Linked DNA regions of Homo sapiens: region 2 is linked to region 1. The links come from fine-mapping of genetic effects on gene expression. A gene starts in region 1. The other region holds a variant in brackets. All regions are shown on one strand. Distances are between the middles of the regions. Region 1 holds the start of MMEL1 (membrane metalloendopeptidase like 1). Region 2 overlaps PRXL2B (peroxiredoxin like 2B).

Region 1 (4,400 bases):
CATGTGTGTGACTGTGAGTGAGTGTGCACGTGTGTGTCCTCGTGTGTGCATGTGTGTGACTGCACGTGTGTGCCTGTGCTCGCGTGTGTGCGTGTGCATGATTATGTGTGCGGATATGCACGTGTGTGCGTGTACACTCGTGTGTGCACGTGTGTGACTGTGTGATTGTGCACGTGTGCGTGTGCTCTCATGTGTGCATGTGCATTATGTGGATATGCACGTGTGTGCCTGAGTGTGCACGTGTGTCCTCTCGTGTGTGCGTGTGCATGATTATGTGCGTGGATATGCACCTGTGTGCGTGTACTCTCGTGTGTGCATGTGTGTGACTGTGCATTGTGTGCGTGTGCTCTTGTGTGTGCATGTGCATGATTGTGTGCGTGGATATGCACGTGTGTGCGTGTACGCTCGTGTGTGCACGTGTGTGACTGTGATTGTGCACCTGTGCGTGTGCGCTCATGTGCATGTGCATGATTGTGTGTGTGGGTGTGCACGTGTGTGCGTGTGCTCTGGTGTGTGGCTGTGCATGTCTGTGTGTGTGTGCACATATGTGAGCACATGCATGGATGTGCACATCCCTCGCTGGCACTCGGAGCCCTGCTGGGAAGTTGCCCGGTCCTAGGGAAGCGGCTGGGTGCTTTGGCCTTCCAGCACTTTCAGTCGTCACACGCAATCACACACCTGCTGTGCTGAGCCCCAGCTTAGCCCTGTACCAGGCAGGGCGGATAATGTGGGAGCAGCGAAAGGAAGCCAGGCCCAGTCCTGCCTGTGGGTGGGTCAGGGACTGGCTGCTGAGACTGCCAGCACCTGGGCTAAATGTGCTTCCGCCCCCCTGTACCCCACCGCCCCCCTGCTGTGGACTTTGCCTGAGTTCTGTCCCTGACTCCCTGGGAGATCCTAGATGTCCCTTAGCCTGTCTGGGCAACACCCTGCAAAGGTGGCTGGGCCAGCTCATTTCAGCGACTCCTCCAGAGATCCCTGACCTCTGGCTGTGTGAGGAGCGGGGACGGGGACCTGGACCTCACTCCTCTCCTCCAGGTCCCTCGCTCCTCCCTTCCTGTCCCCTCAGCCACCTCTCTCAGTCCCTGGCTCTGTGAACCGCAGCGTTCATGCATCCACACACCCTCAGATGCTTCCTTTGACGCCCTCTGCTGTGCCCCTAGACACCCCTATCCCGCCACTGGCTGAAGCTGGACTTTGGAGCCATCTGCCTCCCTTGCCTGCGTCCACACCCCGCGCCAGTCCTCAGCCTCCAAGCCCATCTCAGTCGGACCCTTTCTCATTCCTGCCACTCGCTGCCTGTTCCAGGCCCCACCAATCACCTCCCCCTGAGGGGTCTGTCTCACCCACTGATCCCCACCACAGGGGCCCAGGGGCCTGTAACTAGAATCAGAGGCCGTCACTCCCTGGCCCCTGGTAGCCAAACCCTTGGAGGAAGAGCCGGGCCTTGCCCTGATGTCAGGACCCTCTTTGGCCCTCCTCCCCTCTCACTATGCCCTCCCCTTACCCTCAGGCAGGCCCACCAGGTTTCTCCCCCCACCCTCCCCACCCACCCAGGCAGGCCTCCCAGATTCCTGCCAAGCTCCCCTTCCCAGTGGGGCCTTCCTTGGCTCGGCCTCGGGTTCAACTCGGGGAGCCCCAGCCCCTCCCCTGCTCTGTGTCTCTCCAGGGACTCCCAGCTCCACCTCCACATCTCCTCGATACTTCTGCAGCCCCCTGGGAACGTCAGCTCCACGGGCAGGGGCACCCTCTGTGGGGGCCGCTTCACCTAGACTGGCACCCCCACCCCAGAGACCTCGGTCATTATCTGTTGGGTGAATGAATGAATGAATGATGAATGAATGGATCAATCATTTGGACAAGTCTGAGCTCAGCTTCCACGAACTTCTTTCTTTGGTCAGAATTAATGAATCTGCTCCTGCGTCCTGAATTCATTCTGTCCTGCAGGTATCCACAGACGGCTCCATGTGCCCCACGGCACACACAAAATAAACACCTTCAAATTGAGCCAAGTACCCGGGGCAGGTGTGGAGTGTCTGCTGAGGCGAAGGCACTGCGGCTCCCTGGGGACACTCGTGGCCTCTCCAGGTTACTACAGATGGGGGACAGCGGGTCCTTTGGGTAAGATAAACCGTATGCCAGAGGGGGCTGCCTGCCCTGGCACAGGCGAGACTGCACACAGGACGCCCTGCCCAGCCTCCTGAGAAAGGGGCTGAGCGCCTGGAGAGGGTTTCAAGGCCCAGGAGAGGGCCTGGAGAGGGTTTCAAGGCCCAGGAAAGCAGGCCGGGTACCTTCCTTCAGCACAACTCACCTTTGCTCACTCAGGAGTGGCTGCCGCCCACAGTCAGGCCCCTGGAGACTGGGTCCCAGTGGGTTGGAGTTGGGGTGAGCTGGGCCAAGTGGGTGGATTTCCAGGGACTGGGATGGGAGAGCAGTGGCTTGGGGCTGAGTTGAGGCTGCCTGAAGGCTTCTGGGCCTCCTTTGTGATGCAGGCATGGGCTCCCTGGAGGCGGTGACTCCTGCTCACAGTCAGGAGGTTCCACTGGGGGTGTGGCATGGGGGGAGGGGCTGAGGGCAGCTTCTTGGCACCCGGGCTGCCCTGCCTCATGGGTGCCCTTCTCAGGGCCTCTGGCCCCGCCTCCCAAGCCGCCCTCCTTCCTTGCTTCTGTCTCCTGACCTTTCAGTCCAAAGGGGCCCCAGGGGCTGCTGGGAGGAAGGTCAGGCCCTTGTCCTACTCCACACCCTCTGCTCTGCCCCTAACCACCCGGTGGGGGGTTACAAAGGCCCCACCCTGGGTGTTCTTTCTCTTCAATCTCCAAGGAGGATGGTGGGTTCTGGGGATCTTGCCAAGGTGCAAGGGGAAGGGGTGGTCCTGAAGGGGGTGGGCGCTGGCTGCCAGGAGGGTCCCACCCAGAGATACTAGCCTGGGTTTGGCTGCTTCCCTCTGCCCACAGAAAACTCATGAGGTTCAGACCTCAAGCTACAGAGGGTGGGCAGCCCTGGCCGGGGAGCTGGCAGAAGGGCTCTGTGGCTTCTGAAGGGTTCGCAGTGATCAGAGTGTGAGCCCTGCACCCAGCCCTGCTTGCGGACGGGGGTTCTGGGCAGAGCAGTCTCTGTCTGATTCTCCAGGCCTGATGAGGTTTCTAGCTTCTGTTTCAGAATCCCCAGAACGAGTCCTCCTGCCCAGGCCTTGGGCATGTGTCAGGGCATCTGGGCAGGGCTGGGCCACAGAGCTAGGGGTCCCACGGCAAACTGCTCCTCACGGCCGCCCCGGCCAGGTCTCCCACGCTGAGTGCTGTTGGAAGCTTTGTCTATGGCCCTTTAGGTTGGCCAGGCCCTGGGAGGAGAAAGGCTTCGAGCTGCAGCCAGGCTGGGATCAGATCCCAGACACCACCCTGAGCCCGGGAAGTCTCTCCCTGGGGCCCGCTGGCTGTCCTAGCAGCCCCCTGCCATCACGCCCAGCAACCAGCCCAGGAGCTGCAGTCTGGCCTCAGGCTGCCTGGGTTGCTGGCCCAAATGGAAACAATGTCAAGGCCAGCCAAGCAGGAAGCTGGGACCGCCCTTTCTGGGGAGCTGGGAGTGGGCCAGGGTCCAGCCTGGCTGGAGGCTCCTGCTATGGGGAGAGGCCAGAGCCTTTCCGAGCCCACCTGCCCGACAGCCCTGGTGCCAGCAGGCCCTTTCTGGATGTCACAGTGTTCTTGTCTCTAAGGTACAAATCCACAGAGGGAGAAACAGATGCAGGGGCCTGGCCTACTCTCAGCAGGGGCTCCCTGGACTCTGAACCGACTCCCCAAGGCTGGCCCTGTGCATGCTCCTCCTTCCCGAACCCCAGGCCTGTCCAGCCCAGCAGCCCCCAGCCTGGCCCAAGGCCACCTGGTGACCTGGGCTGCCAAACTTGGGACCCCTTATTCCCAGGTTCTCCCTACTTCTAGGTGACAGCAGGAGGCTTGGGTCCTAGCCTGGCACCTGCCAGACAAGAGAAACTGGGAAAGGAGGCTAAAGGCCAAGGAGGCTGCAGACCCCGAGACCTACCCCGGTCACTGGACACTCACAGATTTGCAGGTGCCCAGGGCAGTGCAACCCAGCCGCCCCAAACACCTGCACAGATGACTCTCTCCCCAGACACCCGCACAGACCGTCCCCCCAGACACCCACACAGACCATCCCCCCAGACACCCACACAGACCATCCCCCCAGACACCCACACAGACCATCCCCCCAGACACCCGCACAGACCATCCCCCCAGACAACCTACACAGAATAAACTGTCCCCCCAGATACCTACACAGACCATCCCCCCAACACCCACACAGACCATGCCCCCAAACACCCACACAGACTGTCCCCCCAAACACCCACACAGACCATCCCAACACCCACATAGACCATGCCCCCAAACACT
Region 2 (4,126 bases), 40 kb before region 1:
GCTCCCTCCCCATCAGCTCCCAGCTGTCACTCTCTCCCACCCCCGGGCAGCTGTTTTGCCCAAGACCACTGCTACCTGTTTACCCACCCTGGTCCCTCCCAGACAAGCAAGGCCTCTGATTTCTTTGAAGCATTTACTTAGCTCAAGTCTGAAGCTGTAGATACTGGAAGACAATGCACCTTGGAGGGTGGGCAGGACACAGTTGATTGTCTCTACAGAGCTGTGACGGGGGCACTGAGCCCCGCGGGTGTCTGTGGAGGGGGCTCCGGTCCAGGTACTGCACTGGACACTGCTCATCCCTGGGTGTCAGGCAGGTGGCTGCACCCTAGGCCAGGCGCAGAGGCCTGGCAGGCAGGCTTGGCATGGTTGGCCGGGGCGGGACGTACACTGGGTCGCCGCTAGCTGCACCTTCGCACAGATGCCTCCGAGCAGCGGGTGGGCGTGGGCCGCACAGCGCGGCAGGGCCTTGGCTACCACACGCGGCATCGCTCCTTGGGGTGCATGGGGGTGCCCCGGGCACAGTGGAACGTGTCTGCGAAGGCGGCCAGGTTCTGCAGCGACCCCAGTACCCTGTGGGTGGGTGGGTGTGACAGCAGGAGCATTGCCATCTTGGACAAACATGGCCATTTTAAGTTCTCCGTGATTAAAAACCAGCCCAAAACATCAGCCTAATGGCTCATGTCAGTATGAGCAGAAACATTTCAACCATGAGATAAACCCCCATCTGACCAGAAACATGCCAATCCTGAGAATAACCTCCCCTCCAGCCAGAGATATTCCAACTCTGCAATAAAACTCTCCTTCACACAGAAACATTCGCAGCCTGCGGTAGGCTCCCCCTTCCTAAACCCTTAAATGCCCTTAGTCTGTAAGAGAATGTCCCTGACCGAAATCGGCCAGAAGCCCCTCTCAGGTTTATTCCCAAAATAAACCTGTCTCTGTTGAGCCACTTTTTGTGCTTTCTTCTTTTACAGGCCACTGGGGTGGGGGTGAGGGGGTTGTGGGTGGCAAGGGGGTTGTGAGCATGGGAGACTTGCCTGTACTTCAGGGGACTGTGGACGTCTGTCTTGATGGATTGGATGGCGAACTCGGGCCGGTAGGACCCGCACCACACCTGTGGGCATGTTGGGGGCGTGGCTACAGGTGGCGTGGTGGGGTGGCCAGGAGGGGTGGGGGAGGGTCTCCACTATCCCCAGGCTGCCCCTTCTAGGGTGGGGTGAGGGGAGTCAGCAGGTGCTCCCCTCCTCCCATCAGCATTGAAATCCTGTCCAGCTCCCGCCCCCTGCCCCTCATGCTTTTCCCCCAAGGGGCCTTCCATGCTGGGCTCTGGTCCCTGGAGGTGCCCCAGAGTGGGCCCTCCAGAGATGAGTGGGGAAGCATGGGGATGGTGGGACCAGGACTGCGGCTGCCACCTGGGCATAGTTGATGAAGAAGAGCTGCTCATGGGTGAGATCCAGGCCGGGCAGCTGCTGGTCCTTGCCACCCTCTGCCATCCACTTGAGGTAGGCCTGCAGGCACCAGACAGGAGCTGAGCTCAGGCCTGCCAGCCTGGACTCCAGAACCCTCAGATCTCAGGGCAGAGCAGAGGTCTGGCTCCAGGACCTACCCCTGTGGGGGTCCTGCTGCTGCAAGGGCCCTTCACACACCCCACGGATGAGCGCTCACCACCTCAGTCACTCAGGGACCCCTGAGCTGGGCCCTCGGGGGGGGATCCCTGGCCAGACAGCCCACTGCACACCACCTGTCCCGAATGAGCCCCTGACGCCCCCTCCCCTGAGGCACTGGTGCCCCCCTCCCCTGCAGCGCTGATGCCCCCCCTCCCCTGCCATGCTGACGCCCCCTCCCCTGCTGTGCTGGCACCCCCTCCCCTGCCGCGCTGATGCCCCCTCCCCTGATGCACTGGCGCCCCCTCCCCTGCCATGCTGACGCCCCCTCCCCTGCCGTGCTGGCGCCCCCTCCCCTGCCGCGCTGACGCCCCCTCCCCTGCCGCGCTGACGCCCCCTCCCCTGCCGCGCTGATGCCCCCTCCCCTGCCGTGCTGGCGCCCCCTCCCCTGATGCACTGGCACCCCCTCCCCTGCCGCGCTGACGCCCCCTCCCCTGCCGCGCTGACGCCCCCTCCCCTGCCAGGCCCCACCTTATAGGCTTGCCGCACCCCTCCGTTGTCAGCAATGTTTTCCCCAAGGGTGTTGAATCCGTTCACCTGCGCACAGGAGACAGGATTGGGGCAGCCCCGGCCCTGACTTCCCTCTCCCTCAGGGCCAGGGCTGGGGCTCCGGTACCCC[C/T]GCAGCCTGGGTGCTGGTGGCAGCGCTCACGTTCTGTTCGTCTGCCAGGTCCCAGGAGTAGTTGCCGTACTGGTAGATCATGCACTCTGACTGCTCCCGGAAGTGCTGGGTGGAGAAGTTACTCCACCAATCCATCATGTTGCCATTCTTGTCGAAGTTCCGGCCTGGGCAGGGGCAGAGGAGGGCTGCCCACATGCCCCTGGCTGCACTGTGCCTGGCCCCACGGCAGCCACTGTGCCTGGCCGCTCCTGCCCCTCCTGCAGCCAGCCCCAGTACGGAGAGCCCACAGTCTGAGTAGGCTGAGCCTGGAAGAGCATCGCGGGCTCCAAGGGGCAGCAGCTGTCTGGGGCTACACAGCCCCCAGAGAAGGAGGGCTTCAGTGGTCTCCCATGCCACCCCCTGAGGCTAGGGCCTAGCACCTGGGTCCTGTGGTCTTGGAGGCATCATGGTTTAAGGGCTCCTCCTGGGATGCCCAAACTCTAAGTTCCAGGCGAGAGGAGTACGTGGTCCCTGGGGACAAGGACTGCCCACGGAAGGTCCGGATGGCCGAGCCACAGGGGAAAACCAGCTGGGGCCCCTGTCCCAGGCAGGGCAGTCCCCACCGAGGGGCGGAGGTCAGCATGGCCATGGCGGGGGTAGCACACCCCCCGGTGGAGGATGCTGGCCGTCTGGAGAGTCTCCCAGGCTGGGATCTGGGCTTCGCTGCTGTATTGGGCAGTGTTGTCGTCCCCATGTCACAGGCCGTGGGAGGGAAGTGCCCAGTGCCAGGTGGAGTCAGGGTCATGGGCTGGAGTCCCTGGGTCCCCTCCTCCATGCTGGGAGTCAGTGCCCCCAGACAGGGCCCCAGCCTGGCATTCAAAGCCTGCTCTGCCCCCACAGCTCCCTGAGGACCTGGCCTCGGTGTCCCCACTGAAACCGTGAAGGGGTTGAATGGAGCGCCCCCAGGCCCCTTCCTGGCTGCTTCTCCGCGGAGAGGGGAGGGCGTGTGTGATTGGAGGGGCGGCCGCTCACCATTGTCGTCAAAGCCGTGCGTGATCTCGTGCCCGATCACCATCCCAATGCCTCCAAAGTTCAAGGCCTGTGGCTGCTCCTTGCTGAAGAAGGGGGGCTGGAGGATCCCGGCAGGGAATACTGTCCCCAAGGGCGGGACAAAGAATAAGCTGTGAGTGGACACATCTCCTGTGTGCCAGGCTCAGGGATGGCGCTGCCAGGGGTTCTGACACTTGATCCCACAGACCGGGAGGCAGAGGTCAGGATTCCCTCAATTTACAGATGAAGACACGGAGGTTCAGAGGCTGGGCGGGCTCGTGCCTGGCAGACCCAGGACCTCAGTCCGGCCTCCTCCCACCATCCTGTTCTGCCTGCAGGAAAGGCTCTGGGCCGCCTGCCAAGTCCCTCCCGAAGCCGCTCATGGGCACGGGAGTGAGTGTTCCCCACGGGGGCAGCAAGGGGTGACATAGGAGAATGTTCCAAGAACAGGCTGGGGTGCCCCCAGGAGGAAGGGATGGGCAGGGGGCTGCAAGCCACCCCTTCAACTCTGGCACCAAAGGGCCTGGGCAGGCAGGGAGGGGGAGGAACTTACCAATCTGGTTTCGGTTTGGGGAGTAGAACGCATTGACCACCGCCGCCCCGATGATCCAGCTGTGATAGACAAGCCGGTCTCTGGGAGCCGCCTCTCCGGGGACCCTCCCTCTGGGCTCTCTCTGCCTTGATGGACCAGGGCCTACCCTGGCCACACCAGAGCAAGGGCCCAGGCCTATCCCAAGATCTGGTTCCTTCCTGGGGTCCCTGAGGAGGAGGCGACTTGGGCCCCAGAAAGCAGAGGGTGATGGGGGACTCTGTC

What was found. PIP is the estimated chance that this variant, and not a neighbour inherited with it, causes the effect. A credible set is the group of variants that fine-mapping cannot tell apart.
Region 2: its variant is the best candidate, but not a certain one, in a credible set for the expression of MMEL1 in whole blood (TOPMed, PIP 0.66).

Annotation. Positions count from the first base shown.
Region 1 is chr1:2,630,558-2,634,957 of GRCh38, forward strand. MMEL1 (membrane metalloendopeptidase like 1) reads right to left here and starts at 2,459. Exons shown (of 24, transcript NM_033467.4): 1 at 2,309-2,459. MMEL1-AS1 (MMEL1 antisense RNA 1) reads left to right here. Exons shown (of 3, transcript NR_183343.1): 2 at 1,945-2,118. RefSeq lists an enhancer at 189-689.
Region 2 is chr1:2,590,520-2,594,645 of GRCh38, forward strand. PRXL2B (peroxiredoxin like 2B) reads left to right here. Exons shown (of 7, transcript NM_152371.5): 7 at 1-949. It overlaps MMEL1 (membrane metalloendopeptidase like 1), which reads right to left. Exons shown (of 24, transcript NM_033467.4): 18 at 3,866-3,924; 19 at 3,295-3,414; 20 at 2,314-2,447; 21 at 2,136-2,201; 22 at 1,413-1,508; 23 at 1,038-1,114; 24 at 120-570. The coding sequence ends at 471. Among named protein-coding and RNA genes, the nearest start is that of PRXL2B, 5.8 kb to the left of the region's middle. The variant C/T (reference allele first, on the strand shown) is at 2,284.